Linked DNA regions of Homo sapiens: region 1 is linked to region 2. Evidence: fine-mapped expression QTL. Tissue or cell type: sun-exposed skin. Region 2 holds a variant in brackets; the other region holds the start of a gene. All regions are shown on one strand. Distances are from middle to middle. Region 1 holds the start of LINC00592 (long intergenic non-protein coding RNA 592). Region 2 overlaps LINC02874 (long intergenic non-protein coding RNA 2874).

Region 1 (4,205 bases), 6.9 kb after region 2:
AACACGTGAGGGGCGTGTTTCCTGGAGAGGGAGAGCTGCTTACCAGCTCAGTCGGGAAGTGGGAGGATGGACGGCCCACGGTGGGGTCTCTGTTCAGGCTTGTGTGTGAGCACCTGTGTGTGCATCATGTGTGTGTGCCCAGATATGTGTGTCCACAGTCTTTAGTGAGGCATCTTCTGCCTCCACGGGCTCTGAGATCTCCAGCAGTGTCTGTTATTGCGAGCACAGGTCCCCCCGGAGAGGACTGTTTCCTTTGCTGATGGTCTGAAAGGTACTTTATGTTCGGATGCAGTGCTGTCTTGATTGGGGACCATTCTTTTTCCTCAAATGTCCTCCAATTTGGCAGACCATGTATTCCAATCTGGAAAACTCCACCCTTACTTTCAGGAATTTTTCTCTGCCCCTTCTCTAAGGACCTCCATTCCCTTTGCCTTTCCTTGAGGATAAACGCCTTTCCTTGATATGACTCGTTCGTCCCTGCTGCGTTCCAGCTTCCACAGGATTGGATCCACTGTAGCGAGTCCACACATGCTTAGTAGCACGGATGCAGGGGGAGAAGGGGTGCATGAATGACTGTGTGTGGCTGAGGACAGCCCTCGGGTGCTCTCTGTCAGGTGTCATGTTGGCAGCTGGCCCTGTCTGCCCTTGGTGTCCAAGCCTGTGCCCCGTGTCAGGGTCTGGGGTCAGATTCTGTGTTTCAAGATCCAATAGCAACACACACACACAAATTCCTGGATGTCAGGGCCAGGTGGGACCCCAGAGACCACCTAGGTGCATCTATCCTTCATTGATATACAAGGCACCCCCCAGAGAGGGAAGGGCCTTCCTTGCCCAATATCACACAGGAAGTTGAGGGGATACAGCCGGGTCTCCTGACTCCTAGTCACAGCTCTCTTCACCATTCCACATTCTCTCCCTAATTTTGACAACCCCCTGTCCCTTCCTCTCTCTCTCTCTTTGCTGTCATCTCTGTACTTTTCTCATGCCCTCCCCTTTCAGAACCTGCCCATTTCTCAAGGCCTATCCTGGCCCTCCTTCACTCTGGAACCTGCCTGATTCCTCTCCCCTAACTTCTTCTGCACCATTAGTGACAAGTCCTGCTAATTCTCATCCCCTAATTGTCTGTAACACAAATTAATGCTTGATTACTTGATGCTCTAATGACCTGGGCTCTAACCAGGCTCAATTGCTTTCTAGCTGCGTGACCTTGGGCTACTTACTTAACGTTCTTAGTCCTCTGTTTTGTCATCTGTAAAGTGGGGCTGGCTTTTGAGCCTGAGTAAATAGCAGAAGCCAAGACTCAGAGGGGTAAACTTCAAAAACGGCAGTGTTAAAATCTAAGGGCAGTGTTAAAATCTAAGGTGTGATGGTGGTGTGTTGGGAGCAGTGGTGAGAAGGCAGGCAGGGGTCAAACTGGGGGAGCCTCAGCTGTGGGGGGCTTATGTTATTGGTAATGGGGCTTCCATGAGGCTTTTTGGAAGGGAAGTAACAAACCCCTACCTAGAGCTTGAAGTGGGGTAGAAAGGGCACCGGCTTTGCAGCTGGCAGATCTGGATTGAAATTCCAGCTCTACCACTGACTAGCTGTGTGATGCTGCACACATTGCTAGATCTCTCTGAGCCTCCTTTTTCAATCTATAAAATAAGGATTATACTCACCCTATGGAATTGTGGTAAGGATTAAACAAGAAAAGGTCTATTAATTGCTTAGCTTGGAGTCTTGCACTTAGTAAGTACTTAACAAGGAGTAGCCGTGATTACTGGTGCTGTCGTCATTACCCAGCAGCGCGTGTCTGCCTCCTGACCTGCCTCTGTCCTGGGTCTCTCTGGGCCCTGGGTGTCAGGCTCATTCCTCATTTCCCAACCTGGAAGCTTCCCAAGGGCAGGGCTCACATGCATCATCTTCTCGCTCTGGCTGTTTCAGGAAGTGATGGGAGTGGGGAAGGCTGTTGAACTGGTGATGTCACAATTTGGGGCTTCTGGGTGGTTCTGCAGAGGCCCCAGGGACCTGTAGGCAGGTGGAGAGGGGATGGGGGAGGTCTCAGGTCCTCTTGCTCACCCATCAGCTGTGTAGTGTCTGAAGTGATTAAGGAGCTTGGGGAGGTTGGTGTTGACAAGATGTTAAGCCATTTCTCCCAGGGACAGTCCCTGGGGCCTCAGGCACTGTGGTGGGCCTACCACTGCTCCGGAACCCCATGGTGGGGGCAGGCCCGTCCCCCAGAGAGGGAGCATGGAGGTGGGAGCTGAGGGGAACTTGACTGACAGCTTCCCCACCCCCGGCTGAGTGTCTCCTTGGCCCATGCGGATGGAGGGGGGAGCCAGACCACACTATCAATGAAATAATTAGAGCCTAATGTTAGACAGTGTTTCTTTAACACCTACTAGGGGTTCACGGGTGTGCTGGGTGCAGAGGACAATCATTTGGCAAGGTTGGCTGGGCCCCTGCCTGCAGAGAGGTTACAGTTTAGAGGAGGATTCAGACAAGCACACAGAGGATACGCACCAGGAAGGGAGGAAGCCTGGGGGCTACGGGAGCCCTGAGGGGTGCACTTGGCCTCTCTAGAATGGCCGTGTGAAGTTTTGTAAGGGTGAGACATAGCTGGCCCTGTAGGCTGAGCCAGGGACATGCAAGCAGTTGTGTGTTTGGAAAGCAGACCAGGGTGTTAAGAGGGTCGTGTGGAGGTGATGGTAGGGGGTGACAGTGGCTGGAGATGAAGCCAGAAAAGTATGCGGGGCTCTTGAATGCTGACATGAGGAGTGAGCTTTCTGTTCCAAGGGAAGCTGGGAGCTGTTGAAGAGTTTTAAGCAGGAAGGGATGTGGTCAGATGCAGGGGCTGCAGTGCTATGGGAATGGGGAGGATTGCGAGGGGTCTGCCTTTGGGTTTCATGGAGCAAGGGAGTGATGGCAGGGGCATGCTCCTGCAGAGGGAGGAGGGGATGGGGTGTGTGGGTCTAGAGCAGGCAGTCTGAGGTGGGCCTGCCCAGGTGAGAGGGTGTGGGGACTCCATCAGGTCGGAGTTTGGAGCCCAGGGCAGGGCTGAGGGAGGGGGAAGGGTGAGGTGGAGGGCTGGACTGCAAGACCAGGCAGGGGAACCGCGGCTTCAGCTCTGCCAGCACTTCCCTTAGGCCTCCCAGGCTGGTCTGCTCCACTGGCCCTCAGAAAGACTTGTCGCCTCGCCGAGCCTCAGTGTTCTCATCTGAAGAATAGAGTGGGCAAGGCCTTTCTCCTACACACTCAGGTGTCTGATTAGTGAACAGTCACGGTGTCTCCAACTGGGCCCTGAGTTATGGGAGAGGCAAGCCCATGACCCACCAGGCCCCACCAAGAGCCGTGCCACAGCCTGAGGTGGGCTCTCGGTGTTGACCAGCTCTTGGAGTACTTCAGGAGGAGGTGGAGGGACTGGGGAGTTCTAGGAGTGTGTCCATGATAAAGAGCCGCAAACAAGATCCCAGGTCCAAGGCTGCCTCACCTCCCCTGTGACATGGGGTGCTCTCTCAGACCCTTCCAGCTCATTGGGCTTTTGAGCCACCCCTGCGTAGTGGGACCAGGGCCCCCAGGGCTGGGAGGACAGGGAATATGGGGTTGTAGCTTAGGCGTAATGGGGTGAGGACCCCAGGACTCACCCAGCTCTGAAGGTTGCCAGATCTTTGCATCTTACTGTTCATCTTCTGCCTCTGCAGAGCCCTGAATGGGAAGAAATGGGTTCCATGTGCAGCAAGCCAGGAGAGATTTAGGCAACGAGAACCTCCAGTTCTGTCTTAGGGTTCCCAGCTTTCTCCTTGTCCTGAGGGAGCCGCTGAGCCTGTGGGAGATGAGGGGTGCCCATTCCCCAGTGCTTCTCACCCTCCCCCACCTGCCCTCCTGGGGTACCTTTGTCTGCCACTTGCATCCTATTGGAAGCTGTCCCCAAGTGCGTGTTAGGCAGGTGGCAGGTGCTGGAGCAGAGTGCACCACCCTCCGGCGATCACTGTGAGTTGGGGTAAGAGTGGGGTGTTCCTGCCAGCCCCAGGAGAGGGGAAAGCAAGCCCCCGTCCACCCTTGTGGGTCTCTGCTCCTGGAAAAGGTGCTCTAGCAGGCTCATCTGTGTGAGTCACTGTCTTCCATGTGGGGTAAGTTGAGCCCTGCCTTTTGGATCTCAAAATCCAGGGATGCCGACATCCTGGGTCTGGAGAAGGGAGGAGGCACAGGGCAGCAGAGCCCTGGCC
Region 2 (4,205 bases):
TCAGCCTCCTGAGCAGCTGGGACTACAGGCACGTGCCACCACACCTGGCTAAGTTTTGTATTTTTAGTAGAGATGGAGTTTCACCATATTGCCCAGGCTGGTCTTGAACTGCTGACCTCGAGTGATCCTCCCACCTCAGCCTCCCAAAGTGCTGGGATTAGAGGCATGAGCCACCACACCCAGCCAGTAAGATTTATTTAAATGAAGAAATAGAGTTGTGTTGCGTGGAGCCCCTAAATTCTGGAAATCTGTTACAGCAGCCGCAGGAAGCTAATACTACCAGCTGATAAGTGGTGGAGCTAGATGTTGAACCCAGAGTGGAGGGCTGGTTTCCAGCCTGCTCTCTTGGCCTGGCGTGGCTGTGCCTGCCACTTTCTCTGCCTCTTGTCCCACTCCCTGCCTGTGTTTTCTGAAGGGCGGCTCCATAGCTTGGCGGGGGGAAAGCCTGGTGAGGACGGGAGAGAAGATTCAAGCCAGGGCCAGGGGCTGGGTTTCAGTTGCTCTACTCCCCCGCTCCTCCAACTCCAGCCTCCCGCTTCCTGTCCCTCTCCCACAGGGAGGCGAGCAGAGAAACACGCCTACAGCAGCCCATTTTTTGGGGGTTCATGTTGGGGGCAGGTCTGTGCTGGCTGTCAGAGCTGGGAGTGTGGAGAGCACTGCGGCGGCACAGCTGACACCGCCTCTGCCAAGGTCCACGCAGCCTGGCTGCCTCCACGCTTCACTGGGTTTTTCCTTCCTGGCTGCTGCATCATTTGATGCAGGGGGAGGGGTGGGATGAGGGGGTGTCTTTGGGTCTCTCCTCGGGGGGCCCCTGAGGTTCTGTGTGGCTATCTCAGGGTAGGGGGTGTCTGGGTGCCTGGTGTGGGGAGGATCCGAGGGCCCTGCCCCTGTGGTGTGTGTGGGTGGGGGGTGTCCCAGACACTGTGGCCCTTTCTGGGCAATGTGTCTCTCAGCCCCTGCGTGTGAATCTGGAAACGTGAGCATGCGAGTATGCCTGTGTGTGTGTGTGAATTTGTTGTGACTGTGTGTGAACATGTGTCCCTGCACCCTGTGCTCACTCATTCCTCTGTGTGAACATGTGAGTGTGCAAATGCGGCTGTCTGCTTGTTCTCCTGTATGTGACTGTGTGAACACGTGGGAGCACATGCCTCCTCACACCCTGCATGTGAATGTGTGTGGACATGTGAGCATGTGAGTGTGCAGACACACCCACTCATGCCCCCACGTGTGGATGTGTGTGTCTCTAGATGTCCTTGTGGGAGTGAGTGTTTGAGCATGACTACTTCCTCCTCTGTGTGTGAACATGTGCGTGTGTGTGTGAGTGTGTGGCTGGGGAAGCGCCACGCCCCAGCCATCCAGCATTGCCTCATCCCTGTGACACAGCCGCTAATGACTGTTTGCCATTGTCTGAGCGGTGGTGGCATCACCCGCACTAATGACAGTCTCCCCTGCCTAATGACCTGGCTCCTGCCCCATTATTTAGGAGCCTCAGGAGCACTGGCCCTGTGACCAGAGAGATGTTGACCAGCTCAACACATTTCCCTTTGGGGTGTTGCGGGGGGGTGGGGAAGTCATAAATCCCACCCCTCCCCGACAGCCCTCAGGGTGCCGGCGTGGGCTGGAATTTCAACTGGCTGATGGCATCCTGGGCGGGAAGCCCCAGGTCTGG[C/G]CCTGCCCTCTGTCTCTGGCAGAGCTGGGCGGCTGCTGCCCCTCCCCACAGGTGACCCTGGACCCTGGCAGCCAGATCCATATCAGGTTCCAAAGACAGGGCTTTCCTTTCCACCGTGAAACCCTCAGGCCGTCTCACCTCTGCGAATGGAGATGTCCCTTCTGAGCAGGGCTCTCTGTGCCCAGGAAGCTCTGATCTGCAGCTGACCTTGGGGAGCGAGGGGGTCTGGAGCAGCCAGGGAACCACAGGGTCCAGAGCAGGCTGCCTGCGTGGAGGCCACAGCAGAGCCTGATTCAGCCACACCGTCAATATTTCTTTTATGATCATCATTAAATTAAAATAGCCTCTGGATTATGGAGGAGAGCTGGGCAAGGGGGCTGCCCCCTTTCTGTGAGCCCACAGCCACAGCCATTTCTTCATATTCTCTTCTGGCTTTCAATCTGCTCCTTCCCATTGATGTTCCCCACTTACAGGCAGGCCTCCTCCTACCTGAAGTTTACCTGGATCTGCAGGGAAGCCTAGGACTCTGCCTGGGGCAGGAGGGACTCCTTAAAGGTGTTCTGGGTTGAGAGATGCAGGCCTGCAACTAGCTGTGAGACCTTGAGCCGGGGGTTGGGGGAGCCGCGGTCTCCTCTGCCAATGCAGATGCAGCGGTACCTGCTCCCTAGGGCTGCTCTGGGGAATAGGTAAGCGCTGAGCATTATATAAACCATTCAGCATTATATAAACCATATAAACGTTGCCGGCACACAGCAAGCACATAGTAAATCTTTTTAAAGCCTCTGAACCTGCATTGCCTCCTCTCCAAAATGGAACAGATAATTGCTGGTGCTCATGGCTGTCGTGAGGATAGTGAGAATCCAGGGGAAGCGCCTGCTGCGGAGTGGGGCAGCTCCGGCATCTTTCTCATGGAGTCCTCGGCTTGGCAGCTTCTCTCCTCACCCATGAGGGTCTGAGCGGGGGAAAAAGGAAGGAGTGGTTGCATTGGCTGTTTTCATTGCTGCCTCAGTGTCCCTGTCCTGGTGGGGCACTCCCTCACTTGCCAGCCAGGGACTGTGGCTTGCTTACATTACTTATAGCGGGACTCATCTGTGACTCACTAGAGGGGCGTGAGGAGAGAAAACCAGCCCAGTGCATTACAGAGTATCGTTTTGTAAATGTATGTGTCTATTGGTTGCTGTAAAATGTATTTCTTACTGTGCGTTGAGGTTAAGAAGCTGGAGACACCTGCTCCACTGTCTCTGGGCGGGGCAGAAGCAGGGGCCTGGGGACTCCCTGGTTTTGCTTTGCTCCTCCTCTGCTCCATCATGAGATTCGCACTAAGCGCCCATGTGTGCTGTCCTGGCATGGCTGGGCCCCAAAATGCGAGAGCCCAAGTCCAGCTGGAGACACATCCCTTCCTGCCCCCAACAACCCACAGAAGTGCCCCCTCATGCCATGTGCCTGGGAAGGCCCACACCTGACATCCAAGGTGCTATGCCACCCAGGAGCGGCCTGCAGGCTAGAGGGTGCTGCAGGATAGGCAAGGGTACAACGGAAGGCCTCCCAGGCTTGCCTCTCATCTGGACCTAGGCCCAGATGAGTTTCAGGGCTGAGCCAAGCTGTCCCTGAACCCTGCTCTTTTCCTCATGATGCTGGACACTTAGTCAACCAGCCCACGGGTAGGGCGAGGGCATCAGAAAATGCTTCCCACAAAAGCAGACCAGTTGGTGGTGGGGGCCCTGCAACCCAGGCATGGTTTTTTTCCTTCCCCCAACACAACAGCCACACCCTCAGTGTGGGCCTAAGTGAAAGCTAATGGTGGGCAGGGGCAAGGGGTGTTGGGGCACCCCAATAGCAGTGGCTGCCATTTACTGAGGGAGACCTCTGTGCCAGGCGCAGCACAAATCAACTTCAATCTTTATGACTCTCTTAAAGTGTTCATATCTATAAAAAGGGTGCTCATTTTATAGATAGCAAAGCTGAGGTCCAGAGCAGTTATGTCCACACAATTAGTAAGTGCTGAGAATCAATCCTGGGTTGGTCTCTCTCTGCATCCTTCTGTGGCTTCTGAGGGAGAGACTCATGTGTGTTACTGGGGACACAGCGCTGGCACACAGGCTGGTTCCAGAGGCCAGGAAGAGGGAACTTGGTCTTGGAAGGCTTTGCAGTACACCAGCTGGAGAGGCTTCCTTTGAGGAGAAGCTGACCTCTTCCAGGTACTCCCCAGAGATTCCTTTCCCAGTATAACCTTAGCTGGGGCCTCCCTGGCAATGAAGGCAAGAACTTGCTCATGGGGAGAGCTGCTCCTCATTGAGAGTTTTATCAGTGAGATTCCTTGATTATCAAGAGGAAAAAATTGCAGCAGGGGAGATGTGACTTAGATTCCAAAGTCTTCTTTGGCACTCCTTAAGGGCAGGGACTAATCCTCCAGGGACTAAACTTCCAGCAAAATAGGCTTAATGAACACTGGAGACTCTCGCAACTAGTGATGACTGTGGCATGTGTAGCTCTGTGAGAACATCTGAAAAGTAATACATAAATAAGGGCAAATGAG

Evidence for each region.
Region 1: it holds the start of LINC00592, and the variant in region 2 is fine-mapped to the expression of LINC00592 in sun-exposed skin (GTEx, PIP above 0.99). The same link has a PIP of 0.9 or more in unexposed skin.

What each region holds. Positions count from the first base shown.
Region 1 is chr12:52,208,919-52,213,123 of GRCh38, forward strand. It overlaps LINC00592 (long intergenic non-protein coding RNA 592), which reads left to right and starts at 2,012. Exons shown (of 5, transcript NR_027358.2): 1 at 2,012-2,102; 2 at 3,126-3,238; 3 at 3,681-4,109. LINC02874 (long intergenic non-protein coding RNA 2874) reads right to left here. Exons shown (of 3, transcript NR_164133.1): 2 at 3,624-3,684.
Region 2 is chr12:52,202,008-52,206,212 of GRCh38, forward strand. It overlaps LINC02874 (long intergenic non-protein coding RNA 2874), which reads right to left. Exons shown (of 3, transcript NR_164133.1): 3 at 2,816-4,172. Among named protein-coding and RNA genes, the nearest start is that of LINC00592, 6.8 kb to the right of the region's middle. The variant C/G (reference allele first, on the strand shown) is at 1,670.